Regions from separate parts of the Homo sapiens genome. Here region 1 is linked to region 2. Evidence: fine-mapped expression QTL. A gene starts in region 2. The other region holds a variant in brackets. All regions are shown on one strand. Distances are from middle to middle. Region 1 has its middle 96 kb from the start of MIR4475. Region 2 holds the start of RGP1 (RGP1 partner of RAB6A GEF complex).

Evidence for each region. PIP is the estimated chance that this variant, and not a neighbour inherited with it, causes the effect.
Region 1: its variant is fine-mapped to the expression of RGP1 in naive CD8 T cells (Schmiedel 2018, PIP 0.95).

What each region holds. Positions count from the first base shown.
Region 1 is chr9:36,722,847-36,731,897 of GRCh38, forward strand. No RefSeq gene overlaps it. Among named protein-coding and RNA genes, the nearest start is that of MIR4475, 96 kb to the right of the region's middle. RefSeq lists an enhancer at 3,088-3,589. The variant T/A (reference allele first, on the strand shown) is at 5,389.
Region 2 is chr9:35,744,977-35,753,905 of GRCh38, forward strand. It overlaps RGP1 (RGP1 partner of RAB6A GEF complex), which reads left to right and starts at 4,311. Exons shown (of 9, transcript NM_001080496.3): 1 at 4,311-4,432; 2 at 4,761-4,895; 3 at 5,267-5,403; 4 at 5,682-5,765; 5 at 5,864-6,013; 6 at 6,290-6,436; 7 at 6,651-6,778; 8 at 6,980-7,169; 9 at 7,675-8,929. The coding sequence starts at 4,780. The coding sequence ends at 7,898. GBA2 (glucosylceramidase beta 2) reads right to left here and starts at 4,252. Exons shown (of 17, transcript NM_020944.3): 1 at 3,370-4,252. The coding sequence starts at 3,728. It overlaps MSMP (microseminoprotein, prostate associated), which reads right to left. Exons shown (of 3, transcript NM_001044264.3): 2 at 8,684-8,792; 3 at 8,014-8,304. The coding sequence ends at 8,124. RefSeq lists silencers at 3,951-4,350, 4,471-4,520, 4,551-4,600 and an enhancer at 7,914-8,929.

The DNA of each region.
Region 1 (9,051 bases), 980 kb after region 2:
TTCTCTTCCCCGGTATAATTTTTTGTTCCATTAATTTCCAAGGACCATTTTGCCAGATCAGAGTGTTAAGAATCATTCACACCTCTTCCATTTGTCTAACCAACCGCTCATCCATTTCTCTCCAGAAATAATTGTATATGGTTCAATAAGTTTATTGTTCAAATCTGTTTACACTTCAGGATGCATCTCATCAGGATTTGCTGTAAAGGGTGGAAGCCAGCTTCCAATGATCATTATTATATCTATTTCTCCAAGTTTTTCAAATATTCATTTTCTTCATCCTCAGGAGCTGCTTTTTCCTCTGTTTATTTTTCTTTCATAGTGAAGGCAGACTTTTCTTTAAAAGCACCCATTCTTTTAGATATTTATTGGCCTCTGTTTCTCTGACTCAGCTGGGTGGGATGCTGGGATTTTTCTGTTTCCAGCATGACTCTATCTTGATTCTGAAAAGTTCCCTATGAAGGGCTCACTGGGCCTTTGTGACTCTATCAGGTTGTGGACCCAGTGGGCAGGGGACATCTGAGAAAGGAGAGAGGGGAGAGAAGAAAGAAAGAGAAGCGGAAATGGAAGCCTGGAAATGGAAGCAAGAACAGAAGTGAGATTTTATAAGTGGTGATGTTGCCCAGACTCAGGACAGAAGGCAAACAAGCTACCAAACTAGACCCAGGTCTGCCTGCTCCTGGACTCTCCCAGGGGTGCACTGGTGTGGTGGATAAGAGTTTGCAGGTCTGGGACCCCAGGTGGGTTCCAGTTGTGTCCCACCGATTAGCAGCTACGCAGTGTGAGTAAACTCCTTAACCTATGCCTCGGTTCCTCAGCTGTAAAAATTGGGATAACAATAGTTCTTGCTTTGTAGGATCATGTGGGGATTTATTTATATGTGCATTTACACAATTATTTTTCAGCTTCCTACGATGTGCCAAGCTCTGTACTAAGCACTGGGGATATAGCCGAGGGCAAAATCCAGCCCCCACCTCTGTATTTCCGGAGTTGTGGTCAGGGTGGAGTGGCATATATCCATCTATTAACTGCTCATGTAAAATGGACAGGTACTGCTAGGGAGTCCCCAAAGACCTGAATTCAGGGAGCCCTGGGAGTGTTTCAGGTGAGGAGAGGGGAGAGTACAGTAGGCAAGGCAGGTGAGGCGTGGTAGAGAGGTGGGGAATTCGGGAGGGGTGTGTAAGCTGCCTGCATGGAGTTAAGTATGGCTCTGCTCCAGGAATTGCCCCTGTGAGTACTTTAGCAGGACTGCAGGCTCTTCCTAGGGGCCATAGCCATCCCCCTGAATAGGAATGGAGCTATTGGATACCTCCTGACCAACTGTGGGTCAGCAGTGACAGGCTCTAGAGGAAGGGGCTGAGGTCGAGGGTCCCAGTGGTGGGGGCACTAGGATTCTGGATGTCCCTGAATGGGTCCAGCTGCAGGAGGGTCTGGAGTGAGGTGAAGCATGAGACAGGGGCCATGCGATGGTCTGAAACTATCCTCAGTTGTGGTTCATAACTTTCGGCATGTATCAGAACCACCTGCAGCTGCAGACATCTGAGCTCCATCCCTGGAGATTGGTTTATCAAGTTGGGCCAGGGCCCAGGAATCTGCATTGTAATAAGAGCCCTGGGTTGGGGACTCCACTGAGAAGCACTGCCCAACAGCAACTTGGCCTTCTGAACAAACCTGGGCCTTGTCTGGATTCCTGCAGTCTCAGATGGAGGAGCTGAGAAGTTTCTTTCAGGAAAGGATTCTTGCTATCTGGGTCCAAAAGTGCTAATATTAGCAGCCTTCCTGAACCTGAGAACATTGAGCAACTTTGAAATCCATGTAGCAGTGTGAAATGGGAATTAAGGAGCCATAGCTTGGTCCATCATTTCAATGAAGATGTGGGAAAACCTGGCCAGATGTTCCATCAGCTGTGGGAAGAGCCTAGCAGGTCCAATGAACATCTAGATCTGGCACCCACTGGTGAGAGACATTTGGAGAAAGAGGGACATTGGCAGCTTCCTTGGCACAGAAGAGTGGAGGGGCCGTTCATTCAGAGAGGGACCCAAGCCCTGGGAATTCCTGCCAGGCCTAGGGGCCCAAGAGCTGGGGTGGAGGCCTGTTCACAGGTGCAGGTCCTGGAAGAGGTGGAGGCCATGCGGAGGGAGCAGGCAGAGATGGGCAGGAGGAGTGAGGGACTCTTGATCTTGGTGATCAGGTGATCAATTACCCTGGTTTATCCTAGTTTTAGCACTGAAAGTCCCATATCCCAGGAACCCCTCAGACCAGGGCAAACCGAGATGGTTGGTCACCATACTTTACTTGGCAACAAGGGAATTGCATTCTATTGGAAGGCTCGATTTCTCAGTGGTTACAGCAGAAACTATGACCCCTAGAGCTGGATGTTGATTCTGGCTCTACCGTTACTGTGTGATCTGGGGCAAGGGTTTTAATTGCTCTTGGTTTTAGTTTCTGATATATAAAATGGGAATAATATTTCCTTCATAGGAGGATTTGGGGGAGGGGTAAAAAGGATAATGCATGTAGAACCTTAGCATAGGGCTTGGTATGTTTATTTATTTGACAAATATGTTTTGGCCACTATGACCCTATTTTCTCATATTTCATTGAATGTAAGATGCCATCAATTAATTGTATACTGAACAATGATTGGCCTACTATGAAGGAAAGAATGCTGCCCATTACACTTTGACTTATGATGGATTGCAAGTTATATCTCAATTTCAGAGATACTAACATGTGAAAAAAAATACCCACCTTAGAATCGATGAACCAGGTACCACGTTGGGAACCTCTGGGCTATGGTGGTGAATAAGGCCATTAAAGCCTCTGCCACTGCTCAATTTGCAGCTCAGTGCAGGCTTCTGGGTGGAGACACTTTTCCAAAAACTCCTGAGGTCTAAGTATGTCTCCTTGAAGACTGTGGCAGGTATCCTATGTTCAATTTAAAATGTCAGATGTGAGGGAGAGTTCCAGGCTGTATGGGGTGCCAGAAGAGAAAATTCTTGGTTTACATGGTCACATGATTGCTCTGGGACCTGGGGCCAGTCAGTTGTGCTTTCTGTGTCTCTGGTGTGAACAGGGGGATTGATTCTAGCTCTGAGGCCTTCCTGGCTTCAACCTTCAGGGACTCTGTTGGGTCCCCCATGGTGGCCAAGTCCCCCTCTCCCAATTGCAGGAAGGGCTTCCTTCTGGATATATGGTCTGCCAAGGGAATGCAACTCTCCCTTGGTGAGTGCCACTCACTGCCAGACTGGGATGGGTGGGAGTGGTGCTTGGGGTGGGATAGGCAGGGGAAGCTCCAGGTGTCAGGTTACACTCCTTGCAGAGCACTGCTGGGCCTGAATGGGAGCCAGGGAGAACGTCCTGCCTTCTCCATCTTTGTTCCTACTAGTTTTTCACAAAGGGACACATGCAGTTTTCCCCTTCATTGTGGGTTCCCTATGTGGGAAAATTCCATTTGCTAGGCCTCAGAACCAGTCCGTGGAACCATGACGGCACCTTCCCCCACCCAGTGTGCCCGATTAGCCTCCAGAGGAGGCTTCTGAAAGGTCAGCTGGTGGGGCATTTCTACCCTGTTGTGGACGATGTGAGGTCAGCACAGACTCCAGGGAGGGCGGCCAGTTTCTACCTAGTCCTGAAAGCAGCACTAAGTTAAATGCTCGCGGGGGTGGGGCAGGAGGGTGGGAAACCCAAGGCTGAGAATACTGTTTGTTTAGAGCGTGATCCACAGAGCATCGAGGGCCCGCTTTCTGTACCTCATTATGTGAAGCCTTGAAGCCTTGTGGTGCCAGCTAAGGGGGGAAGTGCTCAGTGTGGGCCAAGGGAGGAGCTACCCCTGGGGTCCCTCCTGCTGAAAGTCTGGAGTGGTCATGGGGATGAGGGCAGAATTAGATACCTGTCCCAGGACCCTGGTTGAGGGTAGAAAGTCATTTCACGTCGGGAGGAGGCTGGGGGCTGATGCGACACTTGAAAATATATATTTATCATTTTTTTATGACTAGATAAATACTAGAAAATCTAGAAACATAGACAAAAATCCAAAAGAATAAAATAAAAATCACAGCAATCCAATAATCTAGAGTCAACTTCCTTTGACATTCTGGTGTATTTTCTATTAGAATCTGTGTTCTAAACACAGGCCTAGATCTTACATTTGAAGGGCCCAGGGCAAGGGTACAATTGGAGTTCCACATACCATATGTTTAAATATTTAATATTTAAATCATTTTTTCTAAGAAAGATTTTCTTCTGAAACATTCAAAATTATCTGTCAAGACCAAAAGGCAAAACTCAAATTACAATGAGTAAATCTTAAAAATTTAGATGAAAATTATTTCTGTAAAGCAGACATTAAAATTTTTTAAAAACGTTTGATTACATTCCATTAGGTATTAAAAATAGCAAAACTCTATGCTATTTGAATGGCCAGGATCCAGGGTCTATAGTTGTCAATGTAAAGAACTGATATACTTCATACATATTATGTCTGGACCTACACGCAGGGAAATTTAAGAGTGCAATGAATCGTTTGCTATTGCAGAATAGTCTTCAGCTGTTAGGTTCCTCTGGAACCATGAATTAGAACATGAAGAAAAGCAAGGAAATGGACACTTGGCACTGCTGGGAGACTATACTTTGTTATGTAAGAAAATGTTGCATTCCACGCTACCTGAGAGGAAGTGTTTGACAAATTAATTTGTCTATTCTCTTACATGCTTAAGCACGTCCACTGCTCAAATTTTCCCTGTACTCTGAAGCGTCGTCCATCTCTGATGTCAGCCACAGCACAGCCCACGTGGTGTTGTGGCATTGGGATTCAGTCCCTTTTGTCTCAAAGACAGAGGACAAGACCTGGAGACACATCTCCTGGGTCTTGATGATGTTAGTCCCAAGTTAATGTTTAGGGTTACGCTATGCAGCACTGAACACCAGGTCGCAAGTAACAGAAGTGACTGTCTTCATAATAACTATTTGCCTATGTGTGTTTATGAAATGCCGAACACTTTGAATTGTGGGATCTAAGGCATGGACCACACTTACCCAGGTCTAAGGTCTAAGCGTGTGTGTGTGCGTGTGTGCGTGCATGTGCATGTGTGTGCGTGTGTGTGTATATAAAACTATGTATATATTTAATTTAAAATTAATATATTTATTTTAATATTGTAAGGTCTAATTTTAAAAAATACATATATAGAAAATTAGTACTAAATAGTGAGTACCTCTGGAACCACAAATTATATTTTATATGCACAAGGAATTTTAAAATATTAGGAATGTACAATATGTATTATTTCCTCAGTTTTCTAGCATAATTTTTTTCTTTATACATATTCTTCTAAAAATTTATTTTTAATGATTATACAGTATTCCACAAAACAGATATGTCATTAT[T/A]TATTTATTTATTGAGACAGAGTCTCACTCTGTTGCCCTGGCTGAAGTGCAATGGTGTGACCTTGGCTCACTGCAACCTCTGCCTCCTGGGTTCAAGCGATTCTCCAGCCTTAGACTCCTGAGTAGCTGGGATTACAGGTCGCCGCCACCACGCCCGGCTAATTTTTGTATTTTTAGTAGAGATGAGGTTTCACCAGGTTGGCCAGGCTAGTCTTGAACTCCTAACCTCAAGTGATCCACCTGCCTTGGCCTCCCAAAGTGTTGAGATTGCAGGCATGAGCCACTGGGCCTGGCTGTGTCATCATTTATTAAAGCAGTCCTGTAGTGGTTGTTTCCAATTTTTATGTTGCTTCCAGTTTTTCTCTACTATCAACACCGCCACAATGAACATCCTTGTGTGCATGTAAGCTACATTTCTGGAAGTGGCATCCTCAGGTCGGAGCATATACATTGTGTATATTTAGTTGAGTCAGGGGGCAGCCCCTTTAAAAAGACCCAAGTTTCATTGATAAGCTCTTTTATTTTTTGTTTGTTTAGAGTTGGTCCCAGGGAGACCGAAGCCTGCAGGCAGTACTAGAATTGGCCCAGGGAATGGGGTCTGGAGTTATGGATCCCAACTCTCTCTGAGCTTGGGAGAGTCCCTTCCCCTGTCTGGGCCTCACTTTCTTTATCTGTTCAAAGAAGACTCATTGGTACTGACCTAATGAGAAAAAAAAGGGAAAATAAAAGAAGAACAAAGAGGAGTCAGAGTAGGTTGCAGAGTCCTTGCAATCAGAAACGCTCTGATTCTGGGAGGGTTTGCTTGCTGGGTAAGTGGAGCCAAGCTCCAGCCTCTGGGGCTCTGTCCCTGAGACCATCCTGCCCCCTGCTGGCCAGTTGCCAAATGCCAGCTTTGTTCCTGACTCCCACAGGGAGATTCCCCGGAAATTTGCTGGACTCCCAGCAAGTCAGTTGCCCACTGTGAAAGCAGGAGGCTACAAGAGTATGAGAAGTGAGCGCCAACATTGCTACAATTCATTTAGCTGCTGTTTCACTTCTGGAAATTACATTCTTTGGGCTGTGCTTCCAAATGTCTCATTTCATTCATTTGTTCAGCAAATGCTTCCAAGTTCCTCCTTTGTGTCTGGGCTATGTTAGGGGGCTGGAGACACAGTGTTTGCCTGCAAAAAATGCACAGGCTAGATAGGGCCAAAGAACTGGCCATAGGTTACTACCATACAGAGGACAGAGAGGGGCACAGAGAAAAGCCTTCAGATGTTTAATTATTAGGCTATTGCTGGGCTTTCAAACCCCTGATCCTCATCTGTCTAGATAAAGAGCATAAATAGATGTATACTGGGTTGAATAGCATCCCTCCCTAACACTTGTCCACCCAGAACCTGTGAATGCAATACAGGGTCTTTGCAGATGTAATCAAGTAAAGATGAGGTCATGCTAGTGGGCCCTAATCCAATGATGGGTGTCCTTATAAGACGAGGAGACAGAGACCCAGAGAGACATGCAGAGGGGAAGGCCATGTGAAGGCACTCATAAGTCCCAGAATGGCGGGGATTGCCAGGAACCACCAGCAATTAGAAGAGGCAAGGAAGGATTTCTCCCCTGGAGAGACCATGGCTAGCTGACACCTTAATTTTGGACTTTGGGCCTCCAGAGATACGGGACAATACATTGATGTTGTTCTAAGCCACCCAGTTTGTGGTAATTTGTTGCAGCAGCCCTTGGAAACTAATGCAACAAACTTCTTGAGGATGAAAGTTAGCAAACTGAGGAGTACTCGGAATCCAAGTGAGTGAGTGTGTGTGTGTGTGTGTGTGTGTGTCAGGGTGGGAGGAGCTGGAAGTTTCAAGTTACAGCTTCATCTTGGCTGACTGGCTGTGTGTCCTTGGGTAAGTCCCTTCCTTCCCCTCTCTGGGCATTGGTTTCTTGGCCTATATAGGAAGACATTAGACTAGCCCAGTAGCCTTTGCAATTCATTCTGCTGCTGTTTCATTTCCGAAAACTGCATTCTTTGGGACCATGACAAAACCTTTTTTTGTCCTTTTTTAAAGAATCTGGACCCTTTTTTTTTCTCAAACAAAAGTAAACATATTGCCCCGCATATAAATGAGCACAGCTAAGCTGTGCCAGGCACAGGGTTCTGGGGCTGGTGAAGTACTTTTGGGATTTCCTGACCCTTCTCCAAGAACACCAAGGTTGTGCTGGATCCTGTACTGGCCCCTCTGGCATTCAGAAGGTGACATATGATGTCAAATAACTGTGGGTAATCCCAGAGTGAGTCCCTTTCTTCATGATTTAACAGGAAGGTTTATTTAGTCCTTGGGGTTTATGAGTTTGGGATCACAGAGCTTTTATGTGGACTCAGGAAGGGTGAGTGTATCAGTTTCCTGTGGCTGCTGTAACAAATGGCCACAGAGCTGGTGGCTTCAAACAACCGAAATTTATTCTCTTGTAGTTCTGGAGGCCAGAAGCCTCAAATCAGTCTCACCGGGTGGAAACGGAGGTGCTGGTGGAGCCATGCTCTCTCCACAGGCTCTAAGGGAGATTCCTTTCCTCGTGGCTTCCAGAACCTGGCGACTGCCTGTGTTCCTGGCTTGGGGCCACATCTCTCCAATCTCTGCTTCTGTGGCCACACTACCATTTCCTCTGCCTGTGTTACATCTCCCCCTACCTCTGTCTTATGAGGACACTTGTGACTGTATTTATCCCCTGCCCCCAGATAATCGAGGATCATCTATCTCATTTTCAATTTATCCACATCTGCAGAGTCTATTTTGCTGTATAAGGTAAGTGCACAGTCTAATCTGGGAATTAGACCCTGATACTGGGGCCATCATTCAGTGCACTGTAGAAGGTGATATATCCATGATGAAGCCCATGGCAGAGACCAACTCTGTCAGTCTCCTCTCTTATTCTCATTACTCCCACCCTCCCTCTCTGCCCAGGAAAGAAGCTATAGAAGGCATTTGGAACCCTTTTTTGGGTAAGGGGCGGAGGCGGGGAGGGAGGAGGCTGTGGCATTGTTTGCCGGCCAACCTCCTGGGCAGCTCCTGCTGAGCTGAGGACACAGGAAGGCAGAGCCATTCCCATGGAGAAATAGAACAAGGCCCAACCTGGCAGCCATGTCTGGAGGCAGCCCTTTGTCAAAAGTTCATCTGACCAGGGAGAGAAATTGCATACTCAGAGTTAGATCTTGTGCAAGGAGCTTCCCCATGCCATGTAATCCTCTCAAGAACCCTCTGAGACAGAGGTTATTAGGACCACTTTACAGATGAGAAAACAGGCTCTGGGAAGGAAAGTGACTTTCCAAGCTACATAGTGTTAAAAGAAAAACTTCAGCTGAATTAAATGTAAAGGAATTTAATTGAGCAATGAACGATTCGAGAATCGTGCAGCTCCCAGAATCACAGCAGATTTGGAGAGACTCCAGGGATGCCTCCTGGTCAGAACAAATTTATAGACAACAAAAGGGAAGTGACGTACAGAAATCGAAAGTGAGGTACAGAAACAGTTGATTGCTCACAGTTTGGCGTTTGCCTTATTTGAACACAGTTTAAACACTTAGTGGTCTATGAGTGGTTGAAGTATGCCGCTGGGATTGGACAAAACTCAGCTGTTGTTACAGGCACATACTCCTAAGTTAGGTTTTCAATCTTGTCAGCCTGT
Region 2 (8,929 bases):
CTTTATTTCCAACATCAGGAGCTTCTGTCTGACGTGCTGAAAGGACCATTTATGGTTTCCTGGCCTACAGCCTCCGCCCCCAATCCCCTACCTCCAAAACAGGCATAGGCTGCTGGGAATAACTTTCTTATCTTTATTTTTATTATTTATTATTTTTTTTTTGAGACAGAGTTTCGTTCCTTGTTGTCCAGGCTGGAGTGCAGTGGCTCGGTCTTGGCTCACTGCAAACTCCGCCTCCCAAGTTCAAGAAATTCTTCTGCCTCAGCCTCCCAAGTAGCTGGGATTACAGGTGCCCGCCACCATGCCTGGCACATTTTTTTGTGTTTTTAGTAGAGATGGGGTTTCACCATGTTAGCCAGGCTGGTCTTGAACTCCTGACCTCAGGTGATCCGCCCGCCTCGGCCTCCCAAAGTGCTGGGATTAGAGGCGTGAGCTACCGCTTCTGGCCTTTCTTCTTTTTAAAATGATCATTTTTCTTTCTAATTATGAAAGGTGAAAGGGGGAAAAAAATAATCTCACCCATAGACAATCAGTGTTTATATTTATTTCTGGACATTTCCTCTCAAGCCTTTTTTTTTTTTTTTTTTAAATTCAACATTTAAACTGTGAAGCTTTCTGATTTTGCTCTTGGTAAAGCCTTCAAAAAATCCCAACATTTTCCTGGGCTTGGTACAGCCCTATATCCAAGAGGCAAATGATTGAGGCTGTTTTCAATAGGCAAACGATTCTGTTTTCAAGGCTCTGACATCTGTCCCAGCCTATCTTCTAATCTTATTTCCTACAAATTCTCATTCCAGATGGGTCCTCACTAAGTAGCCCCTGCCCTGCCAGACTCTTTCCCATTTCCACTCTCCTGCCTACTGCCACATTATGCCTACTGTTCAGTCACACCACTTCTAACCAAATAATTGGGTAAGTAACCCCTAAGTCCCAGTTTCCTCATCTACAAAATGGGGATACCACCTGCTCTAGCTATCTAATGAAATGGTTGAAAGATCAAATGACATAATAGATAAGAAAGCCATAAAGTACAGGTATGATTATTACTCATATATACAAACTGTTATCTCAATTCCTAATCAGACATTGCCTTGTTATTTCAATGTTCCTCATGTGAGGCTGACATACTTTTAAGTTCCTTGGGGAAAGGGACAATGACAAAGACTAGCTGAATATTACCCTCAGGTCCAAGCACAGGGTAGGACATATGGTCTGCAGTCAATGCATATTTGCCAATTTTACAGATGAATGAACATACAAATGATGGGGCACAAGAGAGATAACAGACTGGAGCAGAGGAGAAGAAATGTGATTAATGAATAGGGACAGCGGCCAGGCACGGTGGCTCACACCTGTAATCCCAGCACTTTGAGAGGCCGAGGTGGGCGGATCACGTGAGGTCAGGAGTTCAAGACCAGCCTGGCCAATGTGGTGAAACCCCGTCTCTACTAAAAATACAAAAACATTAGCCAGCTGTGGTGGCAGGCACCTGCAATCCCAGCTACTCAGGAGGCTGAGGCAGGAGAATCGCTTGAACCCAGGAGACGGAGGTTGCACTGAGCTGAGATTGCACCATTGTACTCCAGCCTGGGTGACAAGAGCAAGACTGTCTCAAAAAAAAAATAATAATAAAATAAAAAGGGACAGCACATTCTAGGGGTGGAAAGAAGAGGGAAGACAAAGGATGGGATGACAGGAAGGCAGAGAATCCTCTCTGCCAGCTTAGAGAAAACCGGACTTTGAAACTAGAGACCAGAAAGGACTGGTAGAGGGAGGGTGTGGCCGAGGATTAGGGCAACCAGGGAGAGTAACTGCAATCTATGAGGACAGACAGAACAAAGGACTATCTGGCATGGAACAAGCACTCAATAAATATTTATTGAATGAGTGGACTCTGGCTGGAAGGGAGAACAATTGAAATTGAGTTCTTACGAAGGTAAGACCCAGAGAATTCTGTCTTGCTAGAGCTCCTGGTCAGAGTGCCCACAGTTCAGCTCCATCTTAGGAGCTCTCTTACTCCCTTAATATGGTAGCTGGCCATTCCTGACCTATTTGGCCTTCTCCACAATTTCAACCTCAACTCAAGAGTTATCACTTAGAATTCTTGTCTCACCTGTGCTTTCTCCTCATAGGAACTCATCCTATTCCAAAAGCCTTGTATCAGTACCCCCCACTCTATCCTGGAATGGGGAGCCAGGGTCCAGGGGGTTGAGCACAGCTTCAGGCCTCTATGACTCAGTTCATATTTAAGGGCTAAGAGGCTAGGATGCCCATCTTTTCTTGATCTCATTGTTCCTACCACATGCAACTCAGTGTACTTCTCTATGTACACTAGATCCTATTTTGATGCAAAAACTTTTGGGGTCAAACTTGGACTGAATTGATTCCAGAAGCAGCCTGGAGGGATGATTCTTCTCTGCTACAGGCTACCCACAGGCACCAACAAAGCCAGATGTGCAGGCAGCATCAGGCCCTTCCCACTCCCCAGGGCTAGGGTTAGATAACTGATCTCCCCATCACAGCCCCACAGCACTGACTGGGGAAATGAAGGGTCTCCTACTCTAGAAACTGTAAGGGCAGGGTTTCCCAAGCTTTATGCCTCCCTCCACAGTTCTGTGTGTATTGTGTAGACTGAGTCAGGATGACCTCAGGGTGATGCTTTCTGTCCTCACATCCACCTGTTCCTGTTAATGGGTCTGGCTCCTCATCACTAGTCTTTGAACTCAGTGGGGATCTAGATGGGTTCTACATCTATGGCAGTGCCTCTCTGATAAATGACTTAATATCAAGAGCTCTCTATCCCAGAACAGAATGACAGCACCTTCTCATCACTTCAGAGGTGAGGGCAGGGAGGCTCTTCTTACCTACTCCCTGGAGCTAAAGCTTGAAGAAAGAAGCAGTAGTGTTGGGACTCTAACAGTGTGTCTAATGAGGTACAGAGAATGCCCCAGCTGCTTGTGGGAAATAAGGGGTTGAGACCCCCCCACCCCCAAATAAAACAACATTGTGTTAGTATCACAGCAGCCAGATTATCCTTTCCTACCTTGCCACAAAGTATAGCTAATCCCAAAGGGAAGTCATTGGAAACCAGTATGTGAGAAGAGCCTGAATGGGAAAGGCTGATTGCATGACCAAATGTTCCTACCCTTTCCTTCTGAAAAGACAAAACACTGGGAGGGAAGGGTGTTGCAAAGAGATGTGACCTGGTCTCACGGTCCAAAACCACAGGCCTAAAATATGCCAGGGATAGGGACCGCTTCACTCAGACAAGAAGCCCAACTGCTTTCTTGCCCTTTCCCACCTCTGCTAGAAGTTTTGAGCTGGAACAAAGTGAAGCCAAAGGCATTCTAGGCAATGGGGTCTACTCACCTCAAGCCCATGCCTATATGCTTTATCATGTTGCTTAGGGAGACGTTGTTAGCTTGAAAGGGTTTCCTCTTCTCTGTAAACTCATGAGCCAGACAGATGCGCCAGCCAAAGGGAGGCACCTGGTAGCCCATAGCTTTACCCTCATAGGAAACCATCAGCTGCCCAGAGTCCTCCGGATTGCAGCAGTCCGTCTCTTTTGGGGGTCGGCTGTCTTCGGGACTCTTACAGTCTGTAACCTGCACATCCTTGGTGCCGCCAGTCTCTTCAGGGCAATAAACTTGTGGATCCTCTTTGGCACAGCTTATCTGCTCCGAGGCTGGGACGCCGGTTCCCATGTTCCCTGGATCCTGGGTCCCCATGACCTCGATGGCGCCAAGTCCCGAGCCCTCGGATACTAAGTATCTCGCCAGCCTATTCCAGATGCGGGCGCCGGTCGTTGTTAGGTATCGTCCCGGAGGGCCGGGCGTTGGGGAAAGCTTAAATGAGCTGGTGTTTCAGTGGAGCCGGGGAGCTCTTGCTTCAGTGGGGGCGGCGACAGCAAAGAAGCCGCCTTGGGCTCTCCTTCGGTTGTCTCTGTAGGTCCTGGACGGGAAGGGTCGGGCCTCGTCGTCATTGAGCCGACGATTAGCTCGCCCGGCCAAAGGGCGACTGGGCCCGCAGAGAGGGGAGGAGCCGCGGGGCCAGCCCACCAGGCACCGCCCCGGGACGGGCCCGCAAGGCACCGCCCCCGGGACCTCGGCCCGGCCCCTGGGCCACGGCACCGGGTCCCCCAGGATTGGGCGCCAGGTCCCGCCGGCCGGCTCCGGGGCAGCGCCCGCGCCCAGGTGCCAGCCCGTGGGAAGGTGACCCTGGGCGCCGGGATGACCCGAGCCCTTTCCGGTCTGGCCTGCCGGGCGCTTCCGGCCGGAAGGGACTCCGCGGAGGGTGGGGGACCGAAGGGAAGTCCCGCCTCTACCGCCCAGCGGACGCCGCCGCCGCCGCCGCCGCCGCGTACCTAGCCAGGTCCCTGAGGGGCGGGCAGATGAGGCCTAGGGGTGCCGATCCCTAGTGTCGACTATGCGAGGTGACTAGCGGCGGTGATCTTGGGCTGGGACGTGGAACTTTGAGGAAAGGGGGAGCGGAGGCCAGTTTGGGAACTCCGCGGGGGTGCCCAGGGAGAAGAACCCGTCGCACAGGGGCTGGGGTCTAGGGCCCAGAGCGATGTCCTCCCCCTGGGCAGTACTGAGTCTTCAGTCGCCTCCCTCCCACCCGCCTACCCCTCCTATATCCAGGAGCTCCCTCGGGCACCACGGTGCTGACCACCCCTGTCCTCAGCCCTCAGCCCTAGGTGCTCACCGCAACGCCCCTCCCTGTCAAGGTGCTGACCTCCGCCCCGCCTTGTTTCCTTCTAGATCTGATTCCGGAGCTGCCATGATTGAAGTGGTAGCAGAGCTCAGCCGGGGTCCTGTATTTTTGGCTGGGGAGGCGCTGGAGTGTGTAGTGACCGTCACCAACCCCCTTCCGCCCACGGCCACTTCTGCATCCAGGTGGGGATGCTGGCACTGAAGGTGGTGGCCCTTCTGGGAAGAAGCCAGATTATCTCTGGGGCTGAGGCAGAGCTCAGGTTGTCCTGTAGCGACACCACCTCCTCTTGCTCACTGTGCTGTCATTGTAGGAGAGGGCTCTTTAACAGAAGATGTGGATGACATAGCTGTACGCTTTCCTTCCCCTCCCCCGTTCCCCTTTTTACGCACAGTCTGCTACTCTTTATTTAATGGTTTCTCTTTGGGATTGTGGATTTCCTGATCACTAGGACAGCCATCTAACCTTGTTGGTTAAGATGGTGTGATAGGGAGCTTGGGAAAGCATTTGTGAGGTCAGGAACTACCTCTGATGCCTCCTTTTCCTTTTCCCACAGTGAGGCCCTGGCCTGGGCCAGTGCCCAAATCCACTGCCAGTTCCATGCCAGTGAGAGTCGAGTAGCACTGCCTCCTCCTGACTCTAGTCAGCCAGATGTCCAGCCCGACAGCCAGACTGTCTTTCTGCCACACCGAGGTTAGAGAGGGGCATTTGCCTGGGAGAGGGGGGGTGCGGAGGGTGTGTGTGGAGGCATTGTCACCCATGGGTGAAGTTGTTAATTGTTCTTGTTCTTATAGTCCCTGTCATGCTGGGGATGTTGGGGAGCATGACTATTGCTTTAGGGGTAGAAGACTATTCCCATTTCACAGCAGGGACGGAGGGCCTGGCAGCCTTTCACTATCTCCACTTGCCGTGCTAGTCTTGTTCAGTACTGGACAATGGGTCATTAAATTAGTCATTTTTACCTTTTTCAGGTGAGAGGGGCCAGTGTATCCTTTCTACTCCACCGAAAATTCTATTCTGTGACCTGAGGCTTGATCCTGGAGAGTCCAAATCATGTGAGTGATTGTCCCCATCCCTGAATTGCCTTCTAAGTCTCCTGGAGGGAGGACTCCTCTGGTGCCTCTGGCTGTCCTGACAACTACTTCCCAACCAGACTCCTACAGTGAAGTGCTGCCCATAGAGGGACCACCCTCCTTTCGGGGTCAGTCAGTCAAGTACGTCTACAAACTGACCATTGGCTGCCAGCGTGTCAACTCCCCTATCACTTTACTCAGAGTCCCTCTGAGGGTTCTTGTGCTGACTGGTAAGCAAGGGCTCCTGGAGGGAAGGGCTGGGGAAGGGCGATGCCAAAGCAGAAATTGTCTTAGAGGGCTTGCAAGAGGGACTGCAGGGAAACTTCCTGGTCTCAGTGACAGTGCTAGGGAGTTGGGAAGGGAGGGAGGGTTCTGGAGATAGAGATGTAAACCTCAGCCCTGGCACCCCTTACCTTTAGCCATCTCATGTTAGAATCTAAAACCCTAACCTCTACTCTCATCTCCGTTCCCTCTCAGCATTACCTCTCCACTCATTCTTTCTCTAGGCCTTCAGGATGTCCGGTTTCCCCAGGATGAGGCTGTAGCCCCATCCAGTCCATTCTTGGAGGAGGATGAAGGTGGGAAGAAAGATTCATGGCTAGCTGAGCTGGCTGGGGAACGCCTAATGGCTGCCACATCCTGCCGCAGCCTCCGTGAGAATTCTTTCAGAATTGTCCTACCCCATCCTTCCCCTCATTGTTTTCCCATCTCAGAGACAGTCTCCTAACCACCACACACTTCTGTGGATCCACTGATACCTGACACCTCCAATTTTAAAGAAAAGCCCCATCTTTTGGCCTGTGGTGCCCAGTCCTAGACGTTATCCAGTATGTAGACTCCAGGCTTATAGTGTCCTATTCTCCCCAGATCTATACAATATCAGTGATGGCCGAGGGAAAGTTGGGACGTTTGGCATCTTCAAATCTGTGTACAGACTTGGCGAGGACGTGGTGGGGACCTTAAACTTAGGGGAAGGAACCGTAGCTTGTTTGCAGGTAAGAAGGGAGCAGAGCTTCTTACCTGCTGGGGTGCTGGGGTTGAAGGGCTAGGGTGGAAGGCCTGTATAAAGAGGGGTGGCATGTAGAAGGGGATAGTGGGGTCATCCAGGGTCCCTTTGTAAAACAGCTTGAGGTTGGGCTGTCCTCTCACCTACAGACAGCACTTCCTGTTAGCACACACCTGTCTCTTGCTCCCAGTTTTCAGTCAGCTTACAGACCGAGGAGCGTGTACAGCCTGAGTACCAGCGGCGACGTGGGGCAGGGGGTGTCCCCTCTGTGTCACATGTGACTCACGCCCGGCACCAGGAATCCTGCCTACATACAACTAGAACCAGCTTCTCCCTCCCAATCCCTCTCAGCTCCACCCCAGGCTTCTGTACAGCCATTGGTGAGACCCTCACTGTTACTGGAGAAGGGAGAGGGGGACAGTAAAATGCTGTGCTAAGGGAGGGTGTAATGGATCCTGATTCCTTATACACACTCCCAGACATACCCACGTCTAGCCTCTGACCCGGAACAGTTTCTCAGACCTTCAACCTCTTCCTGTTTCTTAGATGCACTGACCCCTAAACTCCTAACAGCTTGATAGAACTCCTTCCCCACACCTACCTACTAGGACCCTGTGATACACTGATTTTTGATTACTTCATGCTACCTAGACTTGACTGCCTCACTCTTAGGTTATTAGGTACTTAATACTGCTATCTTCAGCTCACATCTGTGGTAGTACCCATTGCTTCAGAAAAACCCTTAATCACAGCTCCCTGCCCTGTGACTTTTCCCTGTCTTCCTGAACACAGATTGTTTTCTTCTCATTCACTAACTATATCCTGTCATTGGCTTTTACTCCTGCTAGCTTCTGATGCTTCTACCTTAATCTTTTTCTTCCATAGTGTCCTTGAAGTGGAGATTGCATTTTGAATTTGTAACGTCCCGAGAACCAGGATTGGTACTCCTACCCCCTGTGGAACAGCCCGAACCTACCACCTGGACAGGACCTGAGCAAGTACCTGTAGACACCTTCAGCTGGGACCTGCCCATCAAGGTGCTGCCTACTAGCCCCACCCTGGCCTCATATGCTGCCCCAGGCCCCAGCACCAGCACCATAACCATCTGAAACTGGCCCACCCTGGTGCTAGTTCCTTCCGGATACTGAGAACTCAGCACCTGGACTCTAATGGGACCCACTTTTTCCACCTGGGGTCCAATGTCGTGGACAGTGAGAGTCGGGCTTTCAGCTATAGCATTAATTTATTTGTTCAGAATACATTGGCAGCTGCTAGTGGTTTCCCTGGAAGTGGCAGCAGCAGTGAGCAGTCAGCAGATGGATGATCAGTTGAGTTTAGCTGGAGTGGGGAGCAGGAGCCCCAGGAACAGGGGTGTTGGCTGAGCCCCATTCTGGGTCAGGCCCTCCCCCTTTGCAGGGCAGCCGAGGGTCAGATTTTTGCACCAAGGAGAACTGGCAGGTTCCTGCCTCCTGACGTACCTCACACCCAGCCGGGAAGTCGATGGGATGCTGGGACCTGGGGAACCAAGGATAGGGGAAGGAGTCAGCACAGTGAAAGGCTGCCTTTATCCCTGCCCACATGTTCCCTCTCTCACAGTTTTCCCCCCACAGAGCCCCTTTCAGTGGCCCCTTGGTCCTCCTAACTAAGCTGTCACCTACCATATGTGGGCCTTTTTGTTTTATAACAGGAGTATTTTCTCTCCAGGTCCACCCCAACCTCCCCTGATTTATAGCCTGAAGCCTTATCTTTCACACTAGTGTTGGTCCCTTCAGGTTTGGCCCATCTTGTATTGCTCTTCTGTTCATTCTTACATCACAGCAATCTAGTCACTCCCTGGTCATCCCTCAGTCACTCATATCAGAGTCATTCTCTCTGGCCATCTTTGGTCACTCACGTGTCACAGCAGCCCACGCCAACAGGATGCAGACAGGTGCAATGGAAACAGTCCTTGCGGAGCCAAGACTCACCCAGGGTAAAATATTTCCCCTCATAGTGACAGGGGGCTAGGGAAGAACGGGAAATGTTAGTAGGTGTAGGAGTGCTGATGAGAGGCAGAGGCTCTTCTGGTCTGGGGTGGAGACAGTAAGTACGCACTATCCCCGTATTTAGTTTGTCTTTCCTGTTTCACAGCTGGAGGAAG